Linked DNA regions of Homo sapiens. The protein of the gene in region 1 purifies or fractionates together with the protein of each later gene. This does not show direct contact. Each region holds a gene or a part of one and is shown on either strand. Other genes may lie near its edges.

What was found.
Region 2: the proteins of PBX1 (region 1) and TRIM26 purify together in Homo sapiens (affinity purification with western blotting; one study listed by BioGRID). This does not show direct contact.
Region 3: the proteins of PBX1 (region 1) and SIN3B purify together in Homo sapiens (affinity purification with western blotting, with the first as the bait; one study listed by BioGRID). This does not show direct contact.
Region 4: the proteins of PBX1 (region 1) and GRHL1 purify together in Homo sapiens (co-immunoprecipitation; one large-scale study listed by IntAct). This does not show direct contact.

The regions. Positions count from the first base shown.
Region 1 is NC_000001.11:164,845,680-164,853,213, reverse strand, and holds the end of PBX1 (pre-B-cell leukemia transcription factor 1), read right to left. Parts: intron 6,631-7,534; coding exon 6,538-6,630; 3' UTR 3,875-6,537; coding exon of another isoform or gene 3,812-3,874; 3' UTR 1,383-3,811; downstream 1-1,382. UniProt on the Homo sapiens protein: Transcription factor which binds the DNA sequence 5'-TGATTGAT-3' as part of a heterodimer with HOX proteins such as HOXA1, HOXA5, HOXB7 and HOXB8. Binds to the DNA sequence 5'-TGATTGAC-3' in complex with a nuclear factor which is not a class I HOX protein.
Region 2 is NC_000006.12:30,194,281-30,202,166, forward strand, and holds part of TRIM26 (tripartite motif-containing protein 26), read right to left. Parts: intron 6,859-7,886; 5' UTR 6,755-6,858; intron 4,985-6,754; 5' UTR 4,824-4,984; coding exon 4,386-4,823; intron 4,245-4,385; coding exon 4,149-4,244; intron 2,467-4,148; coding exon 2,236-2,466; intron 1-2,235.
Region 3 is NC_000019.10:16,862,049-16,869,934, forward strand, and holds part of SIN3B (paired amphipathic helix protein Sin3b), read left to right. Parts: intron 1-303; coding exon 304-511; intron 512-603; exon of another isoform or gene 604-835; coding exon of another isoform or gene 836-931; exon of another isoform or gene 932-1,595; coding exon of another isoform or gene 1,596-1,631; coding exon 1,632-1,748; intron 1,749-3,361; coding exon 3,362-3,600; intron 3,601-4,324; coding exon 4,325-4,508; intron 4,509-7,411; coding exon 7,412-7,886.
Region 4 is NC_000002.12:9,952,808-9,960,693, forward strand, and holds part of GRHL1 (grainyhead-like protein 1 homolog), read left to right. Parts: intron 1-2,107; coding exon 2,108-2,294; intron 2,295-5,978; coding exon 5,979-6,049; intron 6,050-6,066; exon of another isoform or gene 6,067-6,157; intron 6,158-7,886. UniProt on the Homo sapiens protein: Transcription factor involved in epithelial development. Binds directly to the consensus DNA sequence 5'-AACCGGTT-3'.

The DNA.
Region 1 (7,534 bases):
GAAGCGGGTGGGCCTTCTTCACACCCTTTCCCTTCTGTGGGCTAGATGTGAAAAGCTACAGATTCTTGGAGGATGGATGAGCCACAGAGTAGAAGCAGCTAGATCCCCAAATTACTTCAAGGAGAGGCAATGACCAGGGACATTTGCCTTAGGCTATACCGTAAGTGAGAAATAGCTTGTATTGCATTTGAGGCAGTATACATTTTTGGTCTGTTTCTTACATCTATTTAGTACCACTCTAAGTAATACACTAGGTGGGTGAGTTAGCCCCTAATTTTCCATGCAATTGAAAAAGGAAGTAATCGGAGCCTGCTTGCTCCCGTAAGTATATTCCAATGTTTAGATTTGAAGAGAGAACACGAGTCCTCCATTTTGGCTTCTGGTGACACTCACCAACTCAACATTAGCAGATAGCTGTAAACTTTGGAGGCCAATGGGCACTTAGCTTGTCCATTAATAAAAATGATAATTTGATTCCCATAGGCTGGGGATGCTTTGATCTAGTTTCTATCATTTAGAATTGTGATTGGGATAAGTGATTATTACCTCAACTTTCAATACATACTCATCTCATAGAGGATCTGGACAGAGCCTCATAGGAGAGCTACAGCATGAAAATGAGAATGTAATGCATGTGATGGCCCTAGAGTAACATGTCAAAAGGCAGACAAGGAGTTCCATCCCACTCTATGGATGGGAAGATGGTGTTAAAGACTTGGGCACAGACTTAGGTGTGGAGGCCTGGTGTTCCAGCTAGAACACTGGGGATACCACACTCTGTAACACTTCGAAACCTCAAAGGTCAGGGGTTCAATATGAGTGCAGACTATTGGAAGAGATGCTCCTTTGGGATGGTAGGCATAACAGATGGTAGAGATGCACATCTGTTGGGAGTAACATCTATCACACTCCTGAGAGCCTACAACTGGGTATTATTTGTAACCTAGATTCCTTCCCCTGAAATATCTCTTGGGAACCACAATTTTTCTTATGACCAGATCACAGCAGACAAAGAGAAGAAAAGGAGAATCACTGGGCAAACAGCCATGACTTAGGAACTTAGAATTTATTATGGAAAATACTCCTGGCATTTCTCTGAACTGGTGCTTGGTGGATGGCTGCCAGTAGCAAGCAGACAAGATGGGGTGCTCTGTCCCTCTGTAATACAGCTATTGTTTACCCACAAATGATCCTTCCTTCCTTCCTTCTTATTTCCTGAGTGAAGAAGGTGGTCCATAAGGTCTCTGCCCCACCACCATAGTATGTAGACTTTTCAGTGATTAGGGCAACAGTTTAAACCATAATCTACACTAATGCAGGCCTAGTTTGGGGAAAGAGAAGTTGCCAGCATGTAAGAAAAGAAATGTGCACAAAATACAAGTATTTTTTTTTGCAACAAAAGAAACTATTTATTTGGAATATGCATTACCAGTACAAATTAGGAGACTGTAAAACCTACACCGTGTTAGTATCATTAGAGAACACAAAAGTTCAGTTGGAATCAAAAGGGACAGAAGCCTGTGCTCTCACAGAAGCAGAAAAGCTTAAACTTTCAAAACCAAAACAGAGCAGAGCTTTGCAGGTTTATATTCTGAATAATAAGAAAAGGGGAGGGGTAGGGGGAGAATAAAACCAACAACCAAAGGAAAGCATTTCAAATTGAAAATGCCAAAGGAAAGAAGTAATAAGAGAGAAAAGGAGAAAAACATTGAATGTTTTATTTATTTTAACAAAAGAAAAAAAAGTTTACAAAAAATAAAAGATTCCAGGAAGCTTTGAGCTAGGGATTGAAACCATAAAGGTGATGTGAAAAGCTCATCATTATTTTGTTGTGACTTCAAGAGTACAAGTGTTCAGGTAGAAATATTTCCTAAAGCATTGCTCCACAATTCTGCATTCTTTCTTTACTTTTCTTGCTTAAGTTCTGACCACTTTCTGAACATAATTTGTTGAATGATGGTATTTAAAATGAATTTTTTTCCAGATAATATGGCTTTCTTTTTTCCTCTAATAAAAACATTCCAAATCAAGCCAGTTTTGCAATTTGCTTTAAGCAGCTGCCTAAGTCAGAGGTTACTAAGAGGTGTACTCTGTGAAGTAAACGTAACCTCTTAGCATTAAAACTACAGCATTGAGCCTGGCCCAATATCTCATTAACTCTTCATCCAAAACCAGGACTCAGCTGGCAGACTGGCCCCAAGGACTTCTTCCTGCATGTAGTTTACTTAACCAATGGTGCCCATCATACCAGCATCTCCTGCGGGACTCTCCTGGAAGAAAAGGCCTCTTTGGTTGGAAGAGGCCTCATGGAATGTAGTTATTAATTAGGGAGAAATAAAACAAAGTACTTGGCTGTGATAATCAGAATCAAAAACAGCAAAAACCTTTCCTGATAGCATAAAAAGTTCCCTTGGACTAAACGTTTTTGAATTTTTAAAAGGCTAAAAGGAGAAGTATGTCCCTGATTTTATTTTTCTCAGGGACTGCATGAGTGTCACACTCTCTGGAAATGCAGGTGAGCAACGAGACATCAACATGGGCTTGATCTTCGCTTTTGGCATTAACTGAATTCTGAAGCAAAGTAGAAGAACAAGCCTACTTGTTCTTACTCCTCTGCCCAAGTCATCTTTTCACATCACCTTGTATACATATTGAAGAAAAACAGCAAGATCATAATCCTGACAATTAAAAAAAGCCCCCCAATAAACAAACCAAAAATAACACAAAACAAAACATTTTTTTTTTTGTATTTTTAAGAGCAAGAATCAAGAAAAGAAAAGAATTTATTTCTGGGTCTCAAAGTTAATAAACATAATAATGTGTTAGGTTGTACCTATTATGCTCACTATTCCAACCTTTTTTTTTTTTTTTTTAGTTTACAAAATGAATTACTGTCACTTTTAAACATTGTGAAACAAGAAATGGATGTGCACAACTCGACACTTTTCTAGCATTCTTGAACTAATTCACAAATGCAAGAAAATAAAAGAAAAATGAGGGAAATGATGAATGTAGGTAGTCTGGTGTTAAAAACTAATGCAGGAATGATGCGCATTGTCACAGAAAGAAGAGGGGAAATTCCCCATCCTGTTTTGCGTGCTATGAGGGTCATTTTTAAAATTTTTATTATAAACACTATTAAATTCAGACCGCTTTTTTGGTTTTTTTTTTCTTTATCTGAATATACAAGAACATTCATTATCAAATGTTCATCATCAATACTACAAAGAACGAGACACAAGTCGCAAGAAACAATGGAAAATGTTAATAAAGCTGAAAGAATCGTTGAGTATTTTTTTGTTTCTTTTAAAGTTTTTTTTAAATTTGAGTTTCTGTAGTTTCATCTTTTTTGGTATCGAAGTCAGGTTTTTCTGGGCAGAAAAACAAAGAGCAGGAAAGAGAGAGACAGAGAGAAAGATGTGTGAGAAAAGACAACCAGCAAATAAAGAATCACCACCATAGCAAAATAAAACATAAATTGAAAGAAGGTGCCACTTGGCAAATGTACTGCACGGGCGTCAATTCCATGCCAGAGGGAGGATGGATTAGGGATGAAAAGGAGGAGATAAGGAAGAGTTACAAGGTGGGCAAACCCAGGGTCTAGTATCGTTTCTCAGGGGAAATTCGCTGTCGGGGAAAATGGAGCACTCCCACATCTATTAGAAAATGAAGAAATCCTGGGGTGCATCTTGCTCTCTGTAGGACTGGCCTCATGTGAATTCCCAGGAAGCTGTGTTTCCAGAGGCATGCTCTTTCCAAACCCATCCTGCTGCTCTCAGTGTTCTCCTGCTTCGCCTAATGTGGACAGATCTCACGGATGCCACGTTGGAAGTCGGAAGTGATAGTGGGCTTGCCGGGGGTGCCGGGGGAGGTGCTGGGTATAGAGAAGACTAAGTGAAATGCTGGTTGGGGAAAATGCTGTGAAAGGTGATCATCAGTGAAAACTACGGCCCGGAGAGAAACTGCCTGTGCAAATGTAGCCCTGTTCTGATCTTTTGCATTAACTTAACATGGCAATTATTCAGGCCACATCTGGAGTCACTCTTCTTGTTTCCAAGAGAACCCTTTTGTCTCTCTTTCGTACTTTGCCCTAAGTCAAGCAAATGTGATTCAACCATGTTCTTGCGTGGGTAGTTTCATTATATTCCTGCCACTAAGATGGAGTTCTCCACTGATTCTAATCACTATGAAGTTGTCACAAAAATGCTCCTTCTAGGCATCTGTTCTGATTAGGGCTGAAGTTAGTAGACACAACCTTTCTAGTGCCTTTTAGTCATCAAGGCATAATTTCATTTTGCTAAATACTTAGTTTTTGCATTTCCTTCAAATACACATTCCCTTGAGTTTCTTCAGTGGCATCCCCTGCTCCCCTGAGCACACACAGTGTTTTCTATTTATGACTGTAGTGCCAAGCAGAATTTCCATGTTCTTGCTAGCTGCCCATTCTCACCCCTCAGGGTCTCATACTTCTCCCTGGAAGCCTCCCAAGCAGTCAATGTGACAGGGACCAAGTATGTACAAGGCAACATATTGGGTTCAAGTGCAAACTAAGGGAACCAGGGCCTGTTTTTCTAGTTTGGAAGTTTTTCTTTATCCTAAGAAAAGAGACAGACCAAAACCAAGAAGATCAACAATAACTCTTCTCTTTGTCATCACGGTGATGACATCAAGGTACTGATATTAACCAGAAGTTACAACAAGAAAACCATTTATTGTCCCTAGATGGCATGAACCCGTTTATTTCAGGGACATTACTTCCCCTGACTTCGCATTTACAGATTGGATATGAACAAAATCAACTTCTCAGTCTCTCACAAGACTCTTAGTAAGCCAGGCATAACAGTTCCCATCTCACAGATGAAGAAAATGAGGCACCAAAATATTTGACCACCTCCCACTTAATCAAGTGATAGAGCTGCCATCTTTATAACTGGTAGGGTTGGCTATGAAGATGGTGAGCTCAGGTGACTTTTGAGAATAGCTTTCATATACATGCTATTTTCTCATGTATTTTTAGTACACGCTGTGTTCCCAGGGAATAAAAATCACTGTGATGATTTCAATGAAAACATTACCTTCCCTTTCCCCATGATTCTCAGGTCCTCAAATGAAGCTAGCAAAAGTTCACATGAGCCACGTTCTTATACAACTCTTTCCTCCAGAGCAATAGGTCAGGACCAAGAACATAGTGTGGTATAACATTTTGGAAAATTAATACAGTGTGCCTAATATAAAACAAAAAATTAAACAGAATCAAGTCCATTAAAGACATTGTAAGTACTGTATGGGGCTCCCTGAGTGCTCCAGAGGTGGTGGGAACAAGAGTAGTTTACACTGGAAACCTGGTCTTCCTCATGATCAGGTCCTGTGTATGCCATTCTGGTAAGTGCACGCTAGTGGGCCTGCAGGTCCTGGAAGCCCCAGACACATACTGCTTCTCTGTGTCAGTGACCTTCACTTAGAGTCACTAATTCCCTCTCTCGGGCTCAAAAGGCATAGTGCTACAGTTATTAATGTAGGTAATTGTATATGGCATCTCGGGAAAGTGAAGATGTGAGATGGTACATGTGCCTACATGTGCATGAACGTGTGTGTCTATGAAGGCATAGTTGAGGTTGAAGGGTTTCACGATAAGAACTTTCTATTCCTTGCTGATGCATTCATCACCATGCCTAACTCAGGCCCAGTTTTGCAATAGGTTCTAAATATTGCTTTCTCAGTGCTGAATGGTCTCCAAAGACTGTGCCTCTGAAACTGAGAGCTATTGCTAGCAGGGTAAGAAAGACTGTAGGAATTCTCCACCTGCTGTTCCCGTGTCCTTCCCTGCTGCCTGACTTCCTGCCCGGGAACCAACCTAGTGGAGATGAAACTGAAAAATGTGGCACCTTTAGAATCCCAGCTATGACAGTCCCCAGTGAATAGCTGGGGCTAGGAAGGAAGAGGAGGAAAGTGTTCCAATCAGTACTGTCCCCAGGGAGGAAGAGCAAGAGGAAGCAGGGAGGCCTGGAATGAATAGGGCAATGTGGAGTATTCCTGCTAAGAGGTAGTGAGAGTAATAAGAGAAACAGAGAAGGATTGCCTGTTAACATAGGGAGTGAGGGATTCGAGTGAGGTAAATTTGGCTCCTCAAACCACCAGCATGAAAACGTACAAACACTTTTATTATTTTCTTTGTAATTTTTTTCCTCTTTAAATTCCTCTAATTGTTGAAAATATCCTTCAGTGATATGAGAGAGGGCGGGGACCCCGGGAGTCTAGGACAGAGGCACAGGGGCAGGGAAGATGACGAAAACCAGGCTGACAGCTGGAGGCAGGGAAGGGTGGCTTCTACCCAGAAAAAAAAGGGAAGAGAGTATAAAGAAGTGTCCAGATTGGCTGAAATAGCATCCCAAAGAAGAGAAGAGAAGGAGACTCTTATTGTGTTTGCTGATTGCTTCGACCTCCAGTCTGACCGCTTCAGCGTTGGGAGAGAAACCCTCCCTCCTGCCCCTGCCCCAACTGGGGCACAGGGTCAGCCGGGATGCGATTGCTGGGAGATCAGTTGGAGGTATCAGAGTGAACACTGCCAGGGCCTTCTGTAGGGGAGGTCACTGATGAAGGGGTAGTAGCATCCTGCCAACCTCCATTAGCCTAGAAGGGAAAAAGGGAGAGAAGTCAGTCCTCTGAGATTGGGTGGCTGTTTTCAGCAGACAATGACAATGAGGCATCTTGTGTAAAGGACCTAGCATAGTGCCTGGCACATGGAGACACTCATCAAATGGGCAACTATTACTGTGGGTGATAATATTGCCCCCACCCTCAAATAAGTTTGGGTCCTCCCAGTGAGCCTCTGGATATGATGTTAATACCTCCCACTAGTATGATGTGTTTATACTTCCCAAAGACTCTGTAATTAAGTCCCAGCCAGCAGTGAAATGACAGCTGTCCTGCAGGTCAAGGGACTCAAGTTTTGGTTCTGGCTCTGGCAACAACTAGCTAATGTCGATGGTAAAGCACCTTCACCTATTTGACCTTAGTCTTCTTTTTTGAAAAATAAGAAGGTTGGCTCAAATGCTTTCTAGGGTTCTTTCTGACTCTGGATGTCCCATGTATTTATGGGATTCCAGGTATTTGTTCTGCACAAGGTTCTATACTAGATGCTCATGGGTATATAATGATGAGTGAGATGTAGTTCATGTGTTCAAGGAGGGAGATAAGCCCACGAATGAACTTATAAATCAAGGCAGAACCTAATAAATGGTAGAGTCCCATTGCTATGAAGTTTCAAATGAAAACAATATCACATTTTGTTGCAACATCAGGAAATACTTCATAGAGGGAGCACTCTTTGAGGTGAGTTTTGAAAAGTACAGAGGCTAATTCAGGTGACTATAACAGATACAACAATGGTGCCAAGGCCATAAGGACTAGTCTGTGTGAATATATCCAGAGAGGTGGTGAGACGGGAAGGTATAGGCTTGATCAATATTTGGAGATCATTTTACAAGACTCTAGATCCAGGAGCATCCCAACAATAAAACTGTTAAAACTGTTC
Region 2 (7,886 bases), on another chromosome or scaffold:
CAGTAGAATAGTAATGATTAGAGGTTGGGAAGGGGGCTGGGGAGAGGAGGGTGGGGAGAAGTTGGTTAACAGATACAAAGTTATAGCTACATGGGAAGAATAAATTCTAGTGTTGTGCAGCATTGCAGGGAGAATATAATTAACTATAATTTACTATACATTTTCAAAAAGCTAGAAGAGAGGATTTTGAATGTTCCAACACAAAGAAATGATAAGTGTTTGAGGTGACAGATATACTAATTACTCTGAGTTGATTATTATATATTATATACTTGTATCAAAGTATCACTCTAGGCCAGGCACAGTGGCTCACGCCTGTAATCCCAGCACTGTGGGAGGCTGAGGCAGGCGATCACCTGAGGTCAGGAGTTCAAGACCAGCCTGGCCAACATGGTGAAACCCTGACTCTACCAAAAATACAGAAAATAGCCAGGTGTGGTGATGTGCGCCTGTAATCCCAGCTATTTGGGAGGCTGAGGCAGGAGAATCGCTTGAACCCAGGAGACAGAGGTTGCAGAGGCAGGAGAATTGCTTCAACCCAGGAGGCGGAGATTACAGTGAGCTGAGATCACGCCACTGCACTCCAGCCTGGGAGACAGAGCGAGACTCTGTCTCAAAAATAAACAAACAAAAACCTCTACATCCCATAAATATATACATTATATAGCACTAAAATTAAAAGAGAAAACACAAAACAAAAAAAGAAACCTACCAGTACCAATAACATTTCCTATACTAGTTTCAAGCTGACACCATTTTCTCTCCCTTCCCTTGACCTTATCCCACCCCAGGGAGAGCTGCAATCTGAGTGCTCTGAGTCATTGAGGGCCAGGCTTCTGCTCTGAGGGCCACTTCTCTGGGTGCATTAGGAAAAGGCACCCCTCCGGGCAAACACAATGGATTTCAGCCCCACCACATCCTCAGCTGTGTGCCTCTGTTCCACACAGTAGGCATTCACACATGGCAGGGGCGTGAGGAGAGGAAGGAGAAGAGAAACGGGCAAAAGGAGATGCAGAAAATGACCCAGTCAAAGAGTATGACGAGAGAAATCTGAGAGAACAGAATGACATCTGGAGGAAAAGAGGGGGCCAGAGAGACATTCTGGACAAAATAAGAACAAGAGCTCAGAGCCCAGGAGTCAGGACATCTGGGCTCAAGCTGTGACCTGACACCCACCCCATGGCCTGGGACAAACTCCTCCCACTCTCTGGACCTCAGTGACTTCATCAGTAGGGGCTGAACTGGAAGGTCTAAAATCCCTGCCAGTCCTCATTCTGTACATCTGAATTCACAACAATGAGGAGCAGGTGGCCGCCTCCTTCTGCAGTCTGTCCCAGTGCACATACTGCAGAGTCTGCCTTGCTATCTCTCCCTCCTAGCTATTGCCCTGCCATTAGCCTGGGACTCCACCTTCCTAGAGATCCTGGGTGGCTCTGCTGCTGACAGACAGACCCAGCCACCCTAAACAGTGCAAGTGGGGGAATACCATCAGAGAGCCCCTCCCCTCCCAGCCTATGAGAGCAGGAAGGTTGAGCCCTCTACCCCTCCAAAGGGGACTGGGCCCTCTTCAGGGTAAGTGTGATCCCCAGAGGCTCCCGGGGGGGAGGAGATGTGGTGCCATTTCAGCTTCACAGCCAGTTCTTCAGCCCCAAACCCTCCCTTTCTCACTATCAAAGCCCCCTCCTCTAGGAGGTGCCCCGAGGCCCCCTTGTCTGCTTTCCATCTTGTTCTCTGTGTGGTAATCCCATGGGCCAAAGAAAACCTGGCCATCTCTGTCTCCCTTCCCCAGTTACCCTATCTCTTCCAGATCCTCTGGGTCTTTGAGAGGAGCTGCTGGTCAGCCCTCCCTCAGCCACCCCCAACCACAACACCATAAAAAGCTTCCACCAGCTGCTAAGTGTCTGCCAATGACTTGTTAAGAGGGCTTGTGATGGCAGTGATGAGGATGGAGGATGGTAAATGATATTAATAATCTTCCCTTCCATTTTCTACTATACCATTTAGTTTTTTGAACAGTTTTGTGTAAAAAGTTTATTTTTTGAAGTGACAGCATGCCAGTTATTTCATTTTATGCTCATGCAATCTACAGACTAATTGGCAGCAGTAAGGATTATCATCTCCATGTTTCAGATGACAAAACTGAGCCCCCAAGTCTTCTAAGGTCCTGCAAGTGAATGGCAGGGCTGGGACCCACCGTCCTGGTCCCTGGCGCCCTGCCCAGGGACGGCCTCTCACCTGCATGAGCTCTGCAGCTGGCTGCTGCGCCTTGCCCTCCAGTTCGGAGATGACCAGGGCCAGCCGGGCAAGCTCCCCGACGCCCCGGCTCTTGAACTTCTCCCTGCCCTCCGTGAGCTCCTGCTCCAGCTTCGCCAGCTGTTCCAGCAGGTGTTCCTCCCGCTCCCTCAGGAACTGATGACCCTGCTCAAACTCAGCCACAATGTACTGCCTCTGGTCCTGGAGCTTCTTCTGCAGGGGGCAGGAAGGGGAGAAGGGCTGACACCTCTGCTCAGGGTGGAGGGCCCAGTGCTGGAGGTGTGCAAGGCTGGCTCGTTCACCTCGCTACCCCCGTTCAGGAATTCTACAGGATCTGGAGTGGGAGGAGCTACAGAGGGTTCCTGGTCCACACTCCGCTTCTCAAAGAAGACTCCAGTAATGAATTAGTTCAGTTCACCCCACCACTATATGGTCAAAACCCTGTCTCCACCTGACTGGTCAGCCACAATCTGTTCTAGCTAAACCAGTACGCTCTGGGGCCCCTAGAGAAACTCTGTGGGTCTCACTCATGAGCCGACGCACTTTTCCCTCCTGGACAAAATCTGTCACCTCTTCCAGGAAGTTTTGCTTGATTAATGTCATCTAAGCCTGACCAGCCCTCTCTTCAGCACCCCACTGTTCAGTCTAAAATATCTATATGTACCCCACCCCTGCCATGTAAGACTGCATCCTGTTTCCTCAGCAAAATTGTGTGACGTCTGTGCTTAGGGACTATGTCCTTTCCTGCCTCCAAATCTCCTCCCCAGCTGGGGTTGGGGGAGTCCTCAGTGGCCCTGTTGACTGGTGCTGAGCTGGGGGCAGCCATGCACACTGAGGGCCTGGAGGGGTCCTTGGACTTGGCTGTCTCTAGCTTACTGTTTCCCTCTCCCTAGGCCTAATGACTCACCACTGGCCCTGACCCCACTACTCCTCCACTGCCCACTTCCTCAACATACACAGTTCCCCAGAAAATCAGAACCATTTGATCAGTTCCCCCCAACCCCATCTCTAATCAAGTACATAATGTGCTGCCTGTTTTCTAACTACAGTTGTCCCTTGGTATCAGTGGGTGATGGGTTCCAGGATCTCCCTCCCCAAGGATACCAAAATCCAAGGATGCTCAAGTTCTTATGTAAAATGGAATAATAGTTACATAAAATCTACTATATACTTTAAATTATCACTAGATTACTTATAATGCCTAATATAATGTAAATGCTATATAAATAGCTGTTACACTGAATTGTTTAGAGAATAATGACAAGAAAAAAAATCTGTACATGTTCAGTAGAGACGCTTTTTCTTTTTTCTGAATATTTCTGATCCATGGTTGGGTAAATTCGCCGCTACGGAACCCACAGATATGGAGGAGGTCCCACTGTACTGGCAACCATGATCCTGGGCCTGGACCTCACTACATACAGTGCCATCAGAATTGGCAGACCTGCCTTAGCTGTTTTCTAGCCCTTCCCTCTCAGTTCTTACCCTGGAGCCAGCTCCCTCCTTCTAAACCCTCTCCACTCTCAGGCAACCTTGTCTCTCTCTCTCTCTTTGAAAGGAAGAATGAAGCCACACCTTCTTCAGTCCCCTGGCAGAAGAGAACCAGCAGCTGGACATGGGCCCTGCCTTCAAGGTGACAGTCACAGAAAACGGAAGGGACTCTAGCTGACATCCAGGCAGCCCACTTGTCTCTCAGACAAGAAACAGGCCCAAGACTACACGGCTCAGAAAGACAGCACTTGGGCTAAAACCCAGGTCTGCTACTGCCAGGCTGACACCCATCCTCCCTGTGAGCAGCGCCTAGAAACACCTCCCAGCTGCCGCCTACTTGCCCAGGCTCACCCTGCCCTACACGGGCGCACCGCCTCAGGGCTTCCTGAAACAGCCTCACTTACCAGCGCGGCCAGGATATCAGCTTCTCCCTTTGCCTGGAAGCCCTGAATTTTGTCTCTGTCCCTCCTTAGGGTACTCAGGTGGTTCAGGATTTTTTCCTGTGGAAAAACAAGCAGTGGCAACAGGTGGATGCTCTGGGCTGGGGCAGGAAGGGAGACTCAGGCTGAGTCCTCTGAGGACTGCAAGGTGGAGCATCCAGAGAAGGTGGCAAGGCACCCTCGGGGGTGAAGAGGGCTTACCCTGTGGGGCTGGGCGGCCTTCTCCATGAGGACGGCCGTGTGGGGCCTGTGCTCCCGGGACTCCCGGCACATCACGCACAGCAGCTTCCCGTCGTCCTCACAGTAGTAGTGCAGCTTCTCTCGGTGTCGCTCGCACAACTTTGCATCCTGCTGCTCCCGGGTCACCTCTCCCGGCTGCCTGCCCTTGTCCACCTTCAGCCGCTCAATGTTCTCCACCAGGCTGGCCAGTTGCCACACGGGTCGGATGTTCTCCTTCTTAAAAGGCTTCTTGCAGAGTGGGCAGACGGGGCGGCTCCCTGAGATGGGGCGGACGTCTGTGGTGCAGCTGCGGCAGAAGACGTGGCCACAGTCAATGGTCACAGGGTCCCGCAGGTAATCAAGACAGATGGAGCAGGTCACCTCCTCTTCCAGGCTCCGTAGTGGGGCTGACGTGGCCATGGTATCCTTAGTTCAGAGAGGTCTCCGTTCACTGGTGAGGACTTCTTCTCCTTGGAGACGCGACATAGAGTCAGGAGCAAGCACAGTAAAGGGGCAAAGGTGGCAGCCTGCACAGGGCTGCCAGCTCCAGCACTCAGTCAATCGACAGACACCACCAGCTCCTACAAGGTTCACACAATGTCAACGAGAAGAGGACCTTATAGATCTAGTCCAACTTCCTCATTGTACAGATAAGGATATGGAAACCCAGAAAGATTAGCTTGGTAGAGTGAAGAGCAGGACAGCCACTAGCCTATACCTTGCTGTTGGGAGAGCCTCAACACCCTTTCCTTCTATCTGTTGGAAAATCGCTGTAATGCACCAACTGTAATAAAAAATCTCTCACTACCTGCTGGGAAACTCATAATGATACACATATAAATCTACAATGTCTACTGTGGACACAGTGCTCCTTCACTCAACTGTGCAAAGCACAAGACACACGAGCAGTCATGGGGGTCCTGACAGAGTCAAGAGACCGCCCGTTTTTTTTTTTTGGTTTTTTTTTTTTTGAGATGGAGTCTTACTCTGTCGCCCAGGCTGGAGTGCAGTGGCGTGATCTCAGCTCACTGCAACCTCCGCCTCCCAGGTTCACACCATTCTCCTGCCTCAGCCTCCCGAGTAGCTGGGACTACAGGCACCCACCACCACACCTGGCTAATTTTTTGTATTTTTAGTAGAGACGGGGTTTCACCGTGTTAGCCAGGATGGTCTTGATCTCCCGACCTCGTGATCCACCTGCCTCGGCCTCCCAAAGTGCTGGGATTACAGGCGTGAGCCACTGCACCTGGCCAAGAGACCCCTTTTGTTTGCTCCTCAAGGTTTCAGGTTTCAAGAACTAAGAGAGGGCAATGTGACATGGCTCACCCTGTAAATCCAACACTTTGGGTGGCTGAGGCAGGAGGATCACTTGAACCGAGGAGTTTGAAACCAGCCTCAGCAACATAGTGAGACCCTGTCTCAACTAAAAAAATTTAAAAATTTTTTAAAATACCCCAGTGTAGTAGCATGCATCTGTAGTCTCAGCTACTGAGGAGGCTGTGGCAGAAGGATTACTTGAATCTGGGAGGTGGAGGCTACAGTGAGCCATGATTGTACTACTACACTCCAGACTGGGCAACAGAATAAGAGACTGTCTCAAAACAAACAAAAAACCAGAAAACATTAAAAAACAAACAAACAAACAGCACTGAGGTTCTTTACCAAAACTCGAGAAGCATCAGGAAGCTTCAGGAGTCTGACTGTCAGCATTTCCCTTTGTGAGTATTTCCCTGGGCTGTTCTATAGTTTGGGTTTAATTTGCTTCCCCTAGAAGGCTGGACTCTAAACACAGCCCTCCAGAGGAGCACAGCTTAGCCTCAGTGGACTTGTTCTTGGCTGTAACTGCCTCGTCTAGATGGCAGGAATCCTCAGGTGGCTGTGGCTGCTATGTGCTGTGAGGCCTTGGCTTGTACAGGGAGCGGGGACACACAGAAAGGACTCTGCTTCTGTTTACCTTTGTAGTCCTGACCCAGTTCCAGGCTGAGGTTATGAGCCTCAGCACATCTAACCCAAGAGCAGCCTCCTGCCCCTGACTCTGTGTGACAATACAGAAGTCACTTAAGTACTGAGCCTCAGTGTATCCATCTGTAAAATGGGAAGAGTGATACTTACCTTTAAGGGTTTCTAAGCAGGTCATGTGAAAGAATTATGGGAAAAGTGCTAAGCACAAGCCTGGTACACAGACGGAAATCTAGGAGAGAACCCACAACCCCTGGTTTCCAAATCCAGTGAGTGTCCAAACCACAAACAAAGAGTTAAATTCAAAAGTGGCAGCAAAAGAGGAAGTGAGCAGAACCAGCCACAGTGACACACGTGCTACAGAGTTCAACAACATCGTCACAGGGCAGTACCTGGAGGACTTGCTCTCCTATAGATCCATGGAAGGCAACTACAGCAGCGCTGGGAAGACAACCAGCAGGGCACAGAGGTGACTGCGAGGCTGGAATGAAGCAACCTGAATTACAGGCAAATCAATACTATTAATGATTATGTATGGTGAAAGTCCATCACAACAGAGTTCAGTGGCCTCTGTCAGTAGTGACATTAATGGGACAGAAATAAAACCCCCAGTCTATAAGACCCAAGAGTAAACAAAACAGGGATATAACGTCCACTCATTGAGGGTCTAGTACAATAATACATAAAAAGTGTTTTATAACGTAAAAGGACTACATAAATATAAGAGATTCTTATAGTGCTGATAATAAATTCCAACTGGAAGCACTAATGGATCTAGGTATGTGTGACTTTAAGAGACATAATGAGGGGAAAATCAAGCACCTTCAAAGCTCAAATGAAGGATTCAAGGAATTTAACTGTCAAGTGAAAGTAATATCAAGTTCCTACATGTTAGTAATGCTGGTAGAAATGCTAGGAATTGGCCGGGCACGGTGGCTCACACCTGTAATCCCAACACTTTGGGAGGCCGAGGCAGGTGAATCACAATGTCAGGAGATTGAGACCATCCTGGCTAACACGGTGAAACCCCATCTCTACTAAAAATACAAAAATTATCCAGGTGTGGTAGCATGCACCTGTAGTCCCAGCTACTCAGGAGGCTGAGGCAGGAGAATCAATCACCTCAACCCGGGAGGCAGAGGTTGCAGTGAGCCGAGATCGTGCCATTGCACTCCAGCCTGGGTGACAGAGTGAGACTCCATCTCAAAAAAAAAAAAAGAAAGAAATGCTAGGAATTGCCTGGTCCAACTCCTTGGCTTTACTGTTGAGGAAATAAGCCTGGCTCAGCAGTTTTTCAGTTGTAACATACTGCAAGTGTTTGGAAAGAGGAAAAAGGAGTGGTACTGGGCGTGTCTGTGGGCTTTCAAGCCCTTTATCATGCCTCTTTGCCAAATGGCCTAGAAGTTTAAAAGCTGAGGTTTTTCTTTGTTGAAGGATAGCCTGTGTTATCTTTGGGTTGGGAACTTATTTTGCAATTTACTTGCAAAATAAGAACAATAAAAGGACTATGAAGAGCTCAGCTAC
Region 3 (7,886 bases), on another chromosome or scaffold:
GCTTCTGCCAGTTTAAGTCATCTTTTCTGGTGTATTTCAAAGCCTTACTGTGAGTATGGGATTAATAGGCACAGGAAGGGACCTGGTGTGTGACAGATGGGTGGGAGGCCCATTCATTCACACACCCCGGGACTTGCAGTGACTTCCTGTGTATTGGATTCTTCCGCCTCTCATTCGCATCCATGATGTTGAATTCTGACTCTGTTTAACTTGTAATGTCCACATGAAGCCATTCTAAAATCTCCAGATCCCTCTCAGAAGGCCCTGGGGATGACCAGTTACCATGTGTCTTTATCTTTGAAGGAAATTTCCAGAACTCTTTGCACAGTTCAAGTCCTTCCTGGGGGTAAAAGAGCTGTCCTTCGCGCCACCCATGAGCGACAGATCCGGGGACGGGATAAGCCGGGAAATTGATTATGCATCCTGCAAGCGCATAGGATCCAGCTACCGGGCACTCCCCAAAACCTACCAGCAGCCCAAGTGCAGTGGGAGGACAGCCATCTGCAAGGAGGTAGCGCTCCCTGGGGCTCAAATGTTCGTTGACATGGTGCATCCCCCACCCCTCCCCAGCAAACACCCGATACCCCCGTTATGAATGAAATGCTGTGTGCTCAGCCCTCCTGAATGTTGGGTTATGGGTGGTGCTGGGATGTGGCCCGGCAAAACCACCTGAGCAGAGACAACAGTGTTGTACCCTGCTGGTAGTTTTGGCAAAACACAGAGTGCCAGGGATAACGTGGAGTTCGGCTTATTCATCTGTTATTTGACTTAGGTTTATTGCTGCCATGATTCTGCTCTGTCCCGGGCTCACTGACCTCAGTGTGTTTCTGTTTAGCTTGACCATTGGACACTTCTCCAGGGTTCGTGGACAGACGATTACTGCATGTCCAAGTTCAAGAATACCTGCTGGATTCCAGGATATAGTGCAGGGGTCAGCAAACTCTGGCCCACGGGCCCTGGCCCGCTGCCCGTGTTTGTAAATAAAGTTTTACTGTCACACAGACACAACCATTCCTTTACATATTGCCTGTGGCTGCTTTTCTCACCACAAAGGCAGAGTTGAGTATTCATCTGGGATGGCCTGCAAAATCTGAGATGGTTGCTGTCTGACCCTTTGCAGAGAGAATTTACCAATGTCTGAAATGAAATCGGCCCTCCGGATCTGCAAGTTCCTCATCTGTGGTTTCAACTAACCATGGATTGAAAATACGTGGGGAAAGAGAAACCAAAAAATGACAATACAGCAATAAAGCGTAATCCACATTTTAAGAATGCAGTGTAACAATGATCTACACAGCATTTACATTGCATTAGGTATAAGTATTCTAGAGATGATTTTGCATAGGATATATGCAAATAGGATTCCATTGGACATCAGGGACTTGAGTATCTGTGGATTTGGGTCTTCAGGGGTGGTTCTGGAACCAATCTCCCAGGATACCAAGGGAGTGTCCACTTGACCAAAGTCATGTTTTTCCTTAAAAACTTTATGCACCTTCCCATTTGTATAAGGCAGTTGGTATTATGTATCAGGATGGTATTATGTATCTTGGTACTTTCTACACTGGCTAACAGTAAATCTTGGCTCCTGGGGCATGCAGCGTCATTCACGGCATTTCCTCTTGGTGCAGGTACTGAACGACACCTGGGTCTCCTTCCCTTCCTGGTCTGAGGACTCCACGTTCGTCAGCTCCAAGAAGACACCGTACGAGGAGCAGCTTCACCGCTGTGAGGACGAGCGCTTCGAGGTGTGTGTGCTGCTGTGGCCGGGTCCCCCGGCATGTGCCTGTTCCCCTTCTCCATGGGACATGCATCCTGATCCTCCTCCACTGCCCCAGTCTCGTTTGGAGGAGCAGGAATTGCAGCACATTCCAACAGCTCCTGGAAGCTTCCTGCCGGGTCTTGCTGGCCTTTGGGCTGGCTACCAGATGGCACTTTTCTTTCTGTTTAAAAATTTTGTTTGGGCTGGGCGTAGTGGCAGACACCTGTAATCCCAACACTTTGGGAGGCCAAGACAGGTGGATCATTTAAGCTCAGGAGTTTGAGACCAGCCTGGGCAACATGGCGAAACCCCATCTCTACCAAAAATACAAAAATTAGCCGGGCGTGGTGGCGGGCGCCTGTAATCCCAGCTACTCGAGAGGCAGAAGCAGTAGAATTGCTTGAGCCAGAGAGGCCGAGGCTGCAGTGAGCCGAGATCACACCACTGCACTCCACCCTGGACAACAGAATGAGACCCTGTCTCCTAAAAAGTTTCTTTAATGTAAAAATTAAATTTATTTTTATTTTATTTATTTATTTATTTTGCTTGCTCTGTTTCCCAGGCTGGAAGTGCAGTGGCGTAATCATGGATCGCTGCAGCCTTGACCTCCCAGGCTCAAATGATCCTCCCACCTCAGCCTCCTGAGTAACTGGAACCACAAGTCCATACTACCATGCCCAAGTTGTTTTTTTTACTTTTTTTGTAGACATGAAGTCTCACTGTGTTCCCGAGGCTGGTCTCACACTCCTGGCCTCAAGCGATCCTCCCACCTTGGCCTTCCAAAGTGCTGAGATTAAAGGAATGAGCCACCACACCTGGCTAATTTTTTTTTCCTTTTTTTAGAGACAGGGTCTGTATTGCCCAGGCTACATTAATTTTTGTAATTAAAAGTTTTATTGGCTGGGCACGATGGCTCACGCCTGTAATCCCTGCACTTTGGGAGGCTGAGGTGGGAGGACTGCTTGAGGCCAGGAGTTCAAGACCAACCTGGGCAACAAAGCAAGAGCCCATCTATACAAAAAAAAAATTTTTTTTTTTTTTTGAGACAGAGTTTCACTCTGTCGCCCAGGCTGGAGTCCAGTGGCATGATCTTGGCTCACTGCAACCTCCACCTCCTGGGTTCAAGCGATTCTCCTGCCTTAGCCTCCTGAATAGCTGGGATTACAGGCACACCACCATTCCTGGCTAATTTTTTTATTTTTAGTAGAGACGGGGTTTCACTATGTTGGTCGGGCTGGTCTCGAACTCGTGACCTTGTGATCCGCCCATCTCAGCCTCCCAAAGTGCCAGGATTACAGGCGTGAGCCACCGTGCCCGGCCATAAATTTTTTTAATTAGCCAGGCATGGTGGTGCACACCTATATTCCTAGCTACGTGGGAGGCTAAGGTGGGAGGATTGTTTGAGCCCAGGAGGTTGAGGCTGCAGTGAGCTTTGATTGTGCCACAGCACTCAAGTCTGGGTGACAGAGCAAGACCCTATCTCTTAAATACACACACCCCCCCCCCAAAAAAATCCTCTGGTCTCTGAGGTCCCAGGCTCCTCTCTGAGGCCTCTTGAGTTCCCCAGTGGCTGACCCCGTCCTGCCTTCCTTTCCATAGTTAGACGTTGTCCTGGAGACGAACCTGGCCACAATCCGTGTGTTGGAAAGTGTGCAGAAGAAGCTGTCTCGGATGGCGCCGGAAGACCAGGAGAAGTTCCGGCTGGACGACTCCCTGGGAGGCACGTCGGAGGTGATCCAGCGCCGTGCCATTTATCGCATCTATGGCGACAAGGCCCCGGAGATCATCGAGAGCCTCAAGAAGAACCCTGTCACCGCTGTCCCCGTTGTCCTGAAAAGGTGCCCTGTGGCGTCCCGACTTCCCTTCCCCTTCCCCTTCCCCCTTCCCTCCCCTCCCCTCCCCTCCCCTCCCCACTGCAGGGAGCCCTTGGAGAGCTCATTAGTGCTGTTTGTCAACAGGTGTCATCTCCAGGGGTGGTCTCTGAGGCCTAAGGGTGCCTTCCTGTATTTCCCAGTCTCCCACTCCTGAGAGGAGAGCACTGTGACCTTCTAGGACTTTCCACCTTGCACATAATACATCTAGACATCTAAATAACTGCTTTAAGAGTCAGATGCGACCACTACACTGTGGCTTGCATTTTATTTAATGCTGCATTTCGGATGCCGTCCGGCGCTAGTTAACAGGCATTTATCAAGTGGTCACTTTCAGGCAGGTGCAGTGCTTGGCCCTGGGATTATGCAGCTGAGTGAGGCAGACCCAGTCCCTCTCTTGGGACTCACAGCTGAGCAGGGGACCTGAGTGGTTGAGCCAACAGCCATGCGGAGAGTGCTGGGTGCCAGGGAGGAGGTGGAGGAACCGGGAAGCCGGCCACATTGGCTCTGTAAGGCCATCACGCCCTCCCTCTGACGTGCACAGAGCCCACTGCACAGACTAGGCTGGGAGCTGGCTGGGCCTGGGTCCTGGACCCCCAGTCAAGTCCCAGAGGAAGACAGGCCAGCCCTGGGATGCTTCAGGGAGGATGCCCTGGCTTGTCCCTGGTGCTGACCTCTCTTCCCCCCGCAGACTGAAGGCCAAGGAAGAGGAGTGGCGGGAGGCCCAGCAGGGCTTCAACAAGATCTGGCGGGAGCAGTATGAGAAGGCGTACCTCAAGTCCCTTGACCACCAGGCTGTGAACTTCAAGCAGAACGACACCAAGGCCCTGCGCTCCAAGAGCTTGCTCAACGAGATCGAGAGCGTCTACGACGAGGTAAAGCCTTCCCTAGCCCTGCCGGCCGGTGGGGGTGGGGTCCTGGCTCTCCCGACCGCCGGGTCTGTGCCTCTGTTTCCCTGGTGGTTAGGCAGGGTAGTGGCATTGCCCTTTCAGGGCTGTGTTGAGGCGAGGGTTCATGTCTCTGTGATGCCCAGCCTGTGGCCTGCCCTAGGAGAACCAGCAACTCTGCCATTGTCTATCTGTTTGTTTGTTTGGAGACAGAGTCTCGCTGTGTTACACAGGCTGGAGTGCAGTGGTGTGATCTCAGCTCACTGTAACCTCAGCCTCCTGGGTTCAAGTGATTCTTCTGCCTCAGCCTCCTGAGTGGCTGGGACTACAGGCGCACACCACCACACCCAGCTAATTTTTATATTTTTAGTAGAGATGGGTTTTCACCATGTTGGCCAGGCTGGTCTTGAACTCCTGACCTCGTGATCCACCCACCTCAGCCTCCCAAAGTGCTGGGATTACATGCGTAAGCCACCGCTCCTGGCCGACTCTGCCATTGTCTAGCGAAGTCTCCGTCCCTCCCGTGGGGCAGTGATGGACTTTGGCTTAGGTAGTGGGTGGCAGCAGCCTTCATTTCTTTCTTGCCGACTGTGCCAGGCACCGGTGTTAGCAACACAGAAAGAGTAATGCATCATCTGACCTCACTCCTGAACCTGACTCTGCTGCGGCATTATTCTGATTTTACCAGTGGGGAAACTGAGGCACAAGAGGTTGCATTTGCCTGGGCTGGTCGCAGGGGGCCAGGGCTCTGAGTCATTGGGTTCGAGGCTTTCGGCTGCATGTCCTCACTGCAGGCTCACAAGGCCTGAGTCATAGAACCAAGGCCAGCGGGGCCCTCAGGTTGCCAGGAGCTGGGCCTGTTAGTAGCTGTGTGTAGGGAGTGCCTGCTTGCAGGATCCTGAGGTGGGAAGCTTGGCAGGGTGCCGGGCGTGGTGATAGCCAGCTGTCGGGAAGGTCCTTGGACACTCTGAGGAGGTGGCTTAGGAGGGCACACTACTCCCCAGGCAGTGCCCAGATCATGGCACGGGCTGCGTTATCAGCCTGGTGCCCACCTGGGCAGGGGGTGTTGCCTCACCTGATTTGGTTTCTTGCTCCTGTCACTGCACAGTGAGCGGTCGCTCCTTCTTTTACAACACAGAAACGGAATCCACAGGAGCCGGGCTGCTGGCCCAAGGCCTCTCCCAGAGCCTGTGGGACTGTGGGGACCCCCTTCCCTCCCACCTCCCTTCCCGTGGGCCACCCTCGCCCCAGGCCCACCCACAACCACTCTGGCTTCCTCACTCTAGTCCTCGGCGATCCTCAAGCCCAAGACCCCGTATAGGTTCTGTGGGTCTGTGGTGTCTGCAAAGTGCAGATGATGAAGTAGCCCTGGAAATCCACCAATGCGACCCTGAGTTCCTGGATCCCTCCCTGGGGCTGGGGCTGACAAAGGGAGGGGCACCAAGGTTCATATGCAGATCTCTGCACATGCAGGTCCTTGATGAATTCCAAAGTCAGAACCCCATTCCATCACGTGATTTACAAAGCATGGTTACAGATCATGGACATGGGGACCCTGCTTCAGAGGGGACTGTAAAGGAATTTTCAGAGTGTTTATGGCATAAATGAGACCTGGGGGACTTAGGAAGCAGTCAGAGGGCGATGGTCACACTGAAGAGCCCAGAGCAGGGCTGAGCGTGCAGACTCCTAGGAACCAGGTCAGTGTGCTTGGCCCTACCAGCCTCTAAGCCGCCTTGCAGGGGAGGAGGAAGGGAAACCTCAGGCTGCTAGGAGACCCGGTCCTTCCCTCGGGAGCCTGCAGAGATGGCATCCACGCTCATTTTCCCCAAGAGCCCTGCTGCGTCTGCCTCCCTGCCTTGGACTGAGGGGGTTGGGGCTGCCCAGCAGAGGCCCTGGGTGCCAGGACAGTGGTGTGGGAGGCTGGAGGAAGGGGTGATTGTCTAATGGTGTGAGGGAATGAAAGTCATGATCTAGATAAAGACCAAGGGGAGGGGTGAGCCTGGGACAGGGTTTTCCAGGGAGTGAGAGCAGATGGGCATGTGCAAAGGCCCTGCACACGCAGGAGGGAGCTTGGCGCGGTGAGGCTGGAGGAGCTGTGGAGGGGCACATCAGGGGCCGGCGTCTTCTGAGCAGCCTGGGAAAGCCTGAAGGGCATTAGTTGGGGTGACCATGCTCCTGTGGGCCAAGTCACCCTGGACCCAGTGAGGAGAGTGGTTGGAGCAGGCTGGTGGGAGCTGGTGGGAGGGCTGGTGACATGATGGTGGTAGCAAGCACGTGCAGGGGCTGGCGGGGACAGCAGCGGAGGCGGGGGCTTGGTGACGATGGGCGTGCAGGTCTTCAGATGTGAGCAGTTGCAGGCCTTCCGGGTAGTAGATGGAGGGCAGAGGCAGAGAGGTCACGGCTCACCCTTTGCCTCCTTGACTTCATCGATAGCATGGTGTGGGCAGCCCCGGTCGAGCTGGAATCAGGCGCCACCGTTGCTTTCAGTAGGAGGAGGTCAGCCTCAGAGGCTTCTCCATGCTGAGCCACGGGGCCCCGTTCTGTCCTGGAGCTGGGCTGAGCGACAGACCCAGGCTTGACGCTGTCAGACCCCCTGTGAACCCCGCCCCACATCTCAGAATCCTCTTGGCTCCTTTGTCTGGGGTCCCGGGATGACTTGGGTCTGCCTCACTTTCGGAGAGGGGACCAGGAGCACATGGGGCTGCACAAGAGGTTGAGGCAAGCGACCTACCCCCCAGGCCCTGCTGCCTCACCGATGTTCGCCACCCATCCTGCTCTGGGCAGCGCTCATCCACCTTGGTGGCCCAGTTAACAGCGAGTCGTGAATGGGCACTGGGGGTCCTCTGGGTGCTGGGTGGCTTTCCACCTAATGGCCGCCCTTCCCCCCACAGCACCAGGAGCAGCACTCGGAGGGCCGCAGTGCCCCCTCTAGCGAGCCGCACCTCATCTTTGTGTACGAGGACCGGCAGATCCTGGAGGACGCAGCAGCGCTCATCAGCTACTACGTGAAGCGGCAGCCGGCCATCCAGAAGGAGGACCAGGGCACCATCCACCAGCTGCTGCACCAGTTCGTGCCCAGCCTCTTCTTCTCTCAGCAGCTGGACCTGGGCGCCTCCGAGGAGTCAGCTGATGAGGACCGGGACAGCCCCCAGGGGCAGACCACAGACCCCAGTGAGCGGAAGAAGCCGGCGCCAGGACCCCACAGTAGCCCCCCAGAGGAGAAGGGGGCCTTCGGGGATGCCCCGGCCACTGAGCAGCCACCCCTGCCGCCCCCAGCCCCGCACAAGCCCCTGGACGATGTCTACAGCCTATTTTTTGCCAACAACAACTGGTACTTCTTCCTGCGCCTGCACCAGACCCTGTGCT
Region 4 (7,886 bases), on another chromosome or scaffold:
GTTATTTGTGAAGGATCGGTTTTTGTCAGTGTGTTCTTTTTCTGGATGAGATAGATATTTTGTATGGAGTATCTTAAATGGATTACTCTTATGTTGTAGAATATGCAGTTAAATTATTGCCTGAAACATATTTCAGAAGTCTGAGAGATCGCAGACGCGGAGTTTAAGGCTCACCTGAAAGTGATGATGAGCCTTCGGCGACTGAAGCCTACTTCCTGACTGTCATGAGGAAGTGGACTAAGAAAGGCAACTGGTTTTGTGTTTATTTCTTGACGTATAGTTTAGATAAGGCAAATTTTCCAAAGCTAACATTTTGGCCTTAGGCAGGCTTTGGAAATATGAAACACCTTCAGGGTGATTCCAAACATAAAGCCATTTCTTTCTCTGTTTTCTATTGCTTGTACAAATTTGGGATGTGGGTGGGAGAAGAAGGGAAGTTGAAAACTAGCATTAAGGGAATTGAACAGCCAAGTGCTGTCATAGTCTTCTGGAAGTAGCTATTACGCTATTAATTATAGCTTAGCAGTACATCAGTCAATCAGTCCATGGCACCAGCCGTTCAGTAGCTGTTGTACTCTGGTCCTGATGGCTCAGGGAATGCCACTTTGTATATTTCTTTATTTTCTTTAAAGTTGAGATTTGTGTAAGCAATCTTCTCCATTTTTAGACAAATGATCTGCTGGCTTTGAACAGTCTTTTATGTTTGTTTTGTGTTAAAATAGTATACCACCTCAAGACTTTCTTACCAAATGTAACGTTTATGCCAAAACGTGAGTAAAAACATTGGCTTTCAAATAACACTTCATTTTGACTGAGGATACATTGTTGGATTTTTTTCCCCTTTTTTGAAGATGTTCTCCTTTTTCTAAATCTGTATCTGTTCTTAAAGGCCCTGGGTGACTCCCAAACGCTAACCTTTGTTGATTACTTGAAAAGATAATCAGTCTTTCTACATTCACTTTTAAAATAGGCAGGTCACCTTTAGGCCATTTACATATTTCATTTGTGTGTTGCAATGAGAGCCAGTCCTTCAATTTGCTTGTTAGAATTGTAATAATTCAGAGGAGTTCCAAACATTTAAAATTTATTTTTCTCCTTGAAAATAAACTGCTTTGTTTTGCTAGAGTCAGTGTTCCATTTTTTCTCTTTATTGACTTATTAAATAGTACCAACCGAACAGTTGTTGAGACTGTTTACATTTCAAGTTTTTGGAATTAGTAATGTTTGCTTTAATCTTTTAAATTAAATCTTCTGTAAGGTTTCACTAAGATCGCCATTGATTTTTTTGGATTTTTCCCACCAAACTACAGTGTTAAAATGAAACAGTTCTTGTGCAATGTGGAAAACTAGCAAAGATTTTTTAAAAGCCAGATTTTCCCACCTATTTTTTTTAAAACTTTTTGTTCAGTGGCTTCATTTATTGTTGGATATCCTTAAGTGTTTATCTCTAAGATAAACAGTTAACTCCCATGCCAGAAAATTATGCCTCTTTATTGATTTACAGTCCCCTTTGGCCACATTCCATGCTCAATCTGCTGGTAATCAGTAGAATATTCTGGCTTTCTCATATACCCTGGAGGATTGCGTGAAGGATCCCTTTTTCTTTCTGCTGCTTCTCCCCTCCCCACTGTGTTCAGGTAGGAATTTTTAAGGCATGGCAGCCACAGTAGAAAGAGGGAATAACATGTAGCAGTGTGATGAACGGCACACGCTCTTCTCAAGAGGGGACAGTCCTGATTGTGTGTTGGAAGAGAACAAGTATTCTCTTTTCTTTACTGTGTCCTTGTGTTTGTTTATGGAAAGTATTTGAATAGCCTGGCATTTTCTCGGGGATGGTTTTGTTTCGCTTTTTTGCCAAATAGTATACCCTGGGTTCCACGTGTAGGTGAACTGCCAGTTCTCTGGCTGCCTAGATACTTTATGTCTTACTGTGGGACCCATTGGTCTGCACTTACGTGGTTTGTCTTCTGGTCTTGTCTTAATTTGACTTCCTAGGGTCATTGATGAAACAATAGGCTATTTTATAGGAATGTCAAGGAATTGGTAGCTTATGATACCTTGCAGTAGAAAAGTGTGTGTTTTTGTTTTTTTTTTAATTTCTCTGAAGCAAACGGCCAGTGTTGGTTCTTCAGAATGAAGCACTTTATCCACAGCGGCGGTCCTACACTAGTGAGGATGAGGCCTGGAAATCCTTCCTGGAAAACCCTCTCACTGCAGCGACCAAAGCGATGATGAGCATCAATGGAGATGAAGACAGCGCCGCTGCGCTGGGCCTGCTCTATGACTACTACAAGGTGGGTTTGCCTGCCTTTAAAACCCTTAACAGCAGTCTCCAATGCACTTGATTCAGCAGCATAGAAACAGACATTTGCTGGTAGAATGCCATGCAAGTTGCTTCTGTAGTGACTATAAATAGTTTAATGAGTACTTTGACTTACTGTGATTCGAAGCTAAAAATCTGTGATTGTAGAATCAAAGGGTTGTTTTTAAAACATGCAAAGCGGTCAGCTGCTGTGGCTCTATCCAGAAGGTGAAGCTACCGTAAAAGAAGATGCTAGATGTGCCTTCTTGGGTTTGAGCATCTCACTGAAGGTGGTTCTTAGTGCCATGGAAAGTGGGCAGGGGTCATTTACCTTTTCACCTTTGTTCCTGGGTAGTCAGGATGATTTCCTTTCCCTAAATGATACTACAGAGCCTTTGAAATCATATTCTGTAGTCTAGGACTGTCCAGTTCCAAGATCAGGATATGTTTTGTTGCCTGTTTCTAGAGATTTGGAGTACTCTTAATTAAATATAATCTATACTCTGCATGGAATTTTACATGATTTTCATTATCTGGAAGTGACACTACTGATTTGTCTCATCATCATTGTCCTGATAACACTAGCTGCCACTATTATGCTAGACATGTTACCAGCCTGCGTGCGACTTCTCACTCAGAGGTCACAGCTAGGATGTGTGCATCTGGGGCCCTAGTCTGGTCCATGGCCGAGGCCACTGTCTTTCTAATGCAGCGTGCATACCGCTCTCCTTCTGGATTCACCTCTCCATTCTTCCTTCTGACCAGAAACACACATTTGGGGGTGGCTACGTCTTTAGGGTGCTACTTAAAACAGCAGACTGAGTTGAAGCACAGCTTTGCCACAGGGCCTTTGTCTCATTGTCACTCTGTGTGACTAACCTGTGTAATCATTGTGTTGTCATCAGTACCTGTATAAAAACAGGATCTGTTTGGGATTACCAGAAGCTTCTTAATGACAGTGTCTTCTCATGAATGTAGTGTATATTTTTTACAGTTTATTTTTGCTATCTTTTTGTTTTAAAAACTTTCAAACCTGCATAAAACTTAAAATAAGAGGATAATTAATTCCTGAATACCTTTACCCAGAATCGCCAGTTGCTAGCCATTGGCTACATTCTGGCACTGTATTCTTTCCTTAATACAAGAAATACAGAGGTGAAAGAAGCCTAGGAGATAGTTTTATTATTAAAATTAGGGTGATTAGCCTGAGCAACATGATGAGGCCCTGTCTCTACCAAAAATAAATAAATAAAAAAATACAGAAATTAGCCGGTTAGTACACATGCCTATAGTCTCAGCTACTTAGGAGGCTGAGGTGGGAGGATCACTTAAGCCTGGGAGTTGGAGGCTGCAGTGAGCTGAGATCATGCCATATCACTACACTCCAGCCTGGGTGACAGAGACAGACCCTATCTCAAAAAAAAAAAATGGGGTGATTATTTCCTAGTATGAGGCCATGCGTCTAACTAAGTTGGGGCTGAGGGATTGAGGTAAGCTCTTTTTTCTTTGAATATGAGCAGAAACTTGTGTAATAACTAATGATGCTAGAAGAAACTCTTACCAGGGAAACATAGCCATGAAGAGTTCCTTTGAAGTGGAAATTATTATATATCTGTTCTTATAGCTTGTTTTATTGACTTACTATAAATTAAGTTCCTAAAACATTAATTATGAAGTTACATATTTTTAACTGAAACTTTTGAGAATGGGAGAAACTCGTTGGTACAAGTTTTGTGCCAGAAAGGCCCGTGTGATAACACTAGGTGTACTACTCCTGCGTCTCAGAAGCATGTAAATCCTCATGTCTGTCCATGAAGGGTGACAATTTTAGTGGTACTTACTTGTCAGACTTCTTGTGATAGGTGTAAATTTATTTTCTTCTTCTTCTTCTTCTTTTTTTTTTTTTTAATAGAAGCAGAGTCTCGCTCTTGCCCACGCTGAAGTGTGGTGGTGCAGTCATAGCTCACTGCAACCTCAACCTCCTGGGGTTGACTGATTCTCCTGCCTCAGCTTCCTGAGTAACTAGGATTATAGGTCATGCCTGGCTAATTTTAAAATTTTTTGTAGAGAGGAGTCTCACTATGTTGCCCAGGCTGGTCTCAAATTCCTGGCCTCAGGTAATCTTCCTGCCTTAGCCTCCCAAAGTATTAGGATTACGGACGTGAGCCACTGTGCCTGGCCTATTTTCTTTTTCAAATAAACTGAATTATTTGTTTCAGGTCTTTGGCTGTATAAGCATCAGTCATTATTACATAATAATTTTGATAAAGCTTGAAAAGCATATTGTTAATACATGAAGCAGTATTTTTTTTTTTTTTGATACAGAGTCTCGCTCTGTCGCCCAGGCTGGAGTGCAGTGGCGCAGTCTCAACTTACTGCAGCCTCTGCCTCCTGGGTTCAAGCAATTCTCCTGCCTCAGCCTCCCGAGTAGCTAGGACTGCAGGCGTGTGCCACCATGCCCAGCTAATTTTTTGTGTTTTTAGTAGAGACGGGGTTTTAACATGTTGGCCAGGATGGTCTCGATCTCTTGACCTTGTGATCCACCCGCCTCGGCCTCCCAAAGTGCTGGGATTACAGGCGTGAGCCACCGCGCCTGGCCAGCAGTGTTTTGTCTTTAATGGTGAAAACAAGGATGCAGGAATAGAATTTTCACGCTGAAAGCCATTTTTAAGCACCTTAGCCATTTTGGAGTGCGCAATGGGGTTAAATCTCAGTTGAGTTATTTCTACAGGACACTCACTAACATTTGCCTACTTTTCACTTCCCTTGCAAAGAAAAGAACCAAAAAAGGAATAGAACACTGAGTTAGACTTGTCCTTTGGGTGATGGACGTATGAATCCCAGCGTATCTAAAGACAGTGATCATATGAAGCCCTCATTTGGATCTTAGAAGAAATGAAGGGTTAACATGGCTGTTCCTTCTGCTTTTGCATTTGATCTGAATGGAGGGTGGTAGGAAAGAGCACTGAGAAAGTTGGAAGAGCTCCGTTGTGTTTTCAGTAGCTTCTTCTCTAATGTTGTGTAGATAAACGAGTAAAACCAGGGCAGAGGTATTTCTTTTTTTCTTTTTTTTTTTTTTTTTGAGTCAGGAAGGGTCTTGCTCTATCGCCCAGGCCAGAGTGCAGTGGCGCAATCTCTGCTCACTGTAACCTCTGCCTCCGGGCTGAAGCGATCTTCTCACCGCAGTCTCTCTTGTGTAGCTGAGACTACAGGCACATGCTACCACGCCTGGCTAATTTTAAAATTTTTTTTGTAGAAATGAGTTTCACTGTGTTGCCCAGGCTGGTCTTGAACTCCTGGGCTCAAACAATCCTCCCACCTTGGCCTCCCAAAGTGGCTGGGATTACAGACATGAGCCACCAGCTGTGGCCAGCGGAGGTATTTTTTTTTTAAGAGATGAGACCCAAACTCCATGACAAAATAAATTTATCATGCCCTGAGTTTATTTGGCAACTCAATAACAGTTGCTTTTTACATATCAACCAGATGGGTGACTAGATTTTAAGCTCGTTGAGGGCAGATATTATAATTTGTGTGTCCCCATAGCCTGGTGTTTGCTAGGCAACCAGTAGATAAATGAATGATTGAATTTACTGAAAAATAAAAGGCTGTATCTTTGGGTAAACTGCACTTCACTGGATAAGAGCTAAATTCTTTTCATGTGTGCTAATATCAGGTTCCAAGAGAGAGAAGGTCATCAACAGCAAAGCCAGAGGTGGAGCACCCTGAGCCAGATCACAGCAAAAGGTAACATTCAGTGCCTAACAGCATAAAGAGTGCAGGGGGAAATGCCACGTTTCTGTAACAGCAAAATGGGAGTTTGTTTAAATGAACAACCACTAGTGAAAGAGATAGGTAAGTTGGACTCTTACTATCTAAATTCAGATTTCATCACTGATTTGCCTCTGTTGCTCTGAAATTTCCTTTTTTCTTTGGGCGTAGTAGTTGCCTTTTCTAGGATGAAAGCACTAACATTCTCCTCCTCCAAAGGGATAGTTTTAGTAATAACTTCAGTATTTGCTTATTTGTTTTTGAGGTTTTCTTTAGAAGGATGTGTGGCAGTGGTCTATTAAAAAAATTAAGCACCAGTGACTCTTGAACAACTGCCTGAGTAAAATTGAATAAAGCAAGTTAAATTGTATTCAAATTCCTGTTGAAATTATTTGTGAAATATTTTAGATTAAAACTTTCAGAAAATTTAATTAACGTTTGGCTAGCCATGAAAAACTTTAAAAAGACACCTTTTAAATTGTCTTGTGTTTTATTATCAATCAAGGAATGAAACATATTTAAAGGAAGAATGATCATCACCCAGTATCCCATTATCGTGATGATTGCTTTATTCATTGTTTTGATGTGTATGCAAATTTTATGTAGCGTAGTTGTGTTCACAGATAGGATTTGGTAGTGTACTTTCTTCTACTTAGTTTGTTTCATAAACATTTTCTCTGTATTTTAATCTTCATAATTATCCTTTGGAAGAGGACTTGTGGCTTTTATCTTTTACTTTTCATTATGGGCATTTTCAAACATAATAAAAATAGAAAAACAGTATAAGCCCACATGTATCCATGACCAGCCTCAACAGTTATCAACACAATTCCTCTTGTTTGATTTGTTCTTCCCTCTTCTTCAACTTTGAGATTAATTCATGTTTTTATTTTATTTATTTTTGCTGGAACATTCTGAAGCAAACTGTAAATATCCTTACAATTGCTGCTATATCTAGTTTTCACTATTAAGAAGTCTTAAGGAACAACTTTCTAGACTTTTTCCGTTTTAGGATAAATTCCTGGGAGTGAATTTATGGTTCAGGGTTCAAACAGTTTTATTGATCTTGAAATGTACAGAATTCTCAATTTGCCTGTTTCTTGAAGCTTCAGCCTATATGATTTCTGGGGGCTTTGAAAATTCATTCATTTTACCCACTGGAAATCATCTTGTATTGCTCAAATTATTTATCAAACCAAAATTTAATTTTATAAAAAGCAGATGTGTCTACTGATGCAATGTAACAATAGGTTTTCTTGGGTGAAAGAGAAAGCCAGGCCCGGCACAGTGGCTCATGCCTGTAATCGCAGCGCTTTGGGAGGCTGAGGCAGGTGGATCACCTGAGGTCAGGAGTTCGAGACCAGCCTGGCCAACATGGTAAAACCCAGTCTCTACTAAAAATACAAAAATTAGCCAAGTGTGGTGGCGTGCGCCTGTAATCCCAGCTACTCGGGAGGCTGAGGTGGGAGAATCGCTTGAACCCGGGAGGCGGAGGTTGCAGTGAGCCTAGATCACGCCATTGCACACCAGCCTGGGCCATAAGGGCAAGACTCTGTCTCAAAAAAATAAAAAATTAAAAAAAAAAAAAGGAGAAAGCCAAATGGCATAGGTGGTAGGAAAAGTGGTGACCAAGTAATAATAGCTCATACTTCTTGAAGACTGTGTGTCAGGCATTATTATACACCTTTTAGTGTATCATCTCATCTCAACCTGATGAGAATGGATGCCATTATTGTCCCCATTTTGCAGATGAGGATTCAGTTACTAAGAGATGAAGTAACTTGCTCAGGTGACACAGAACTTGAACCCAGGC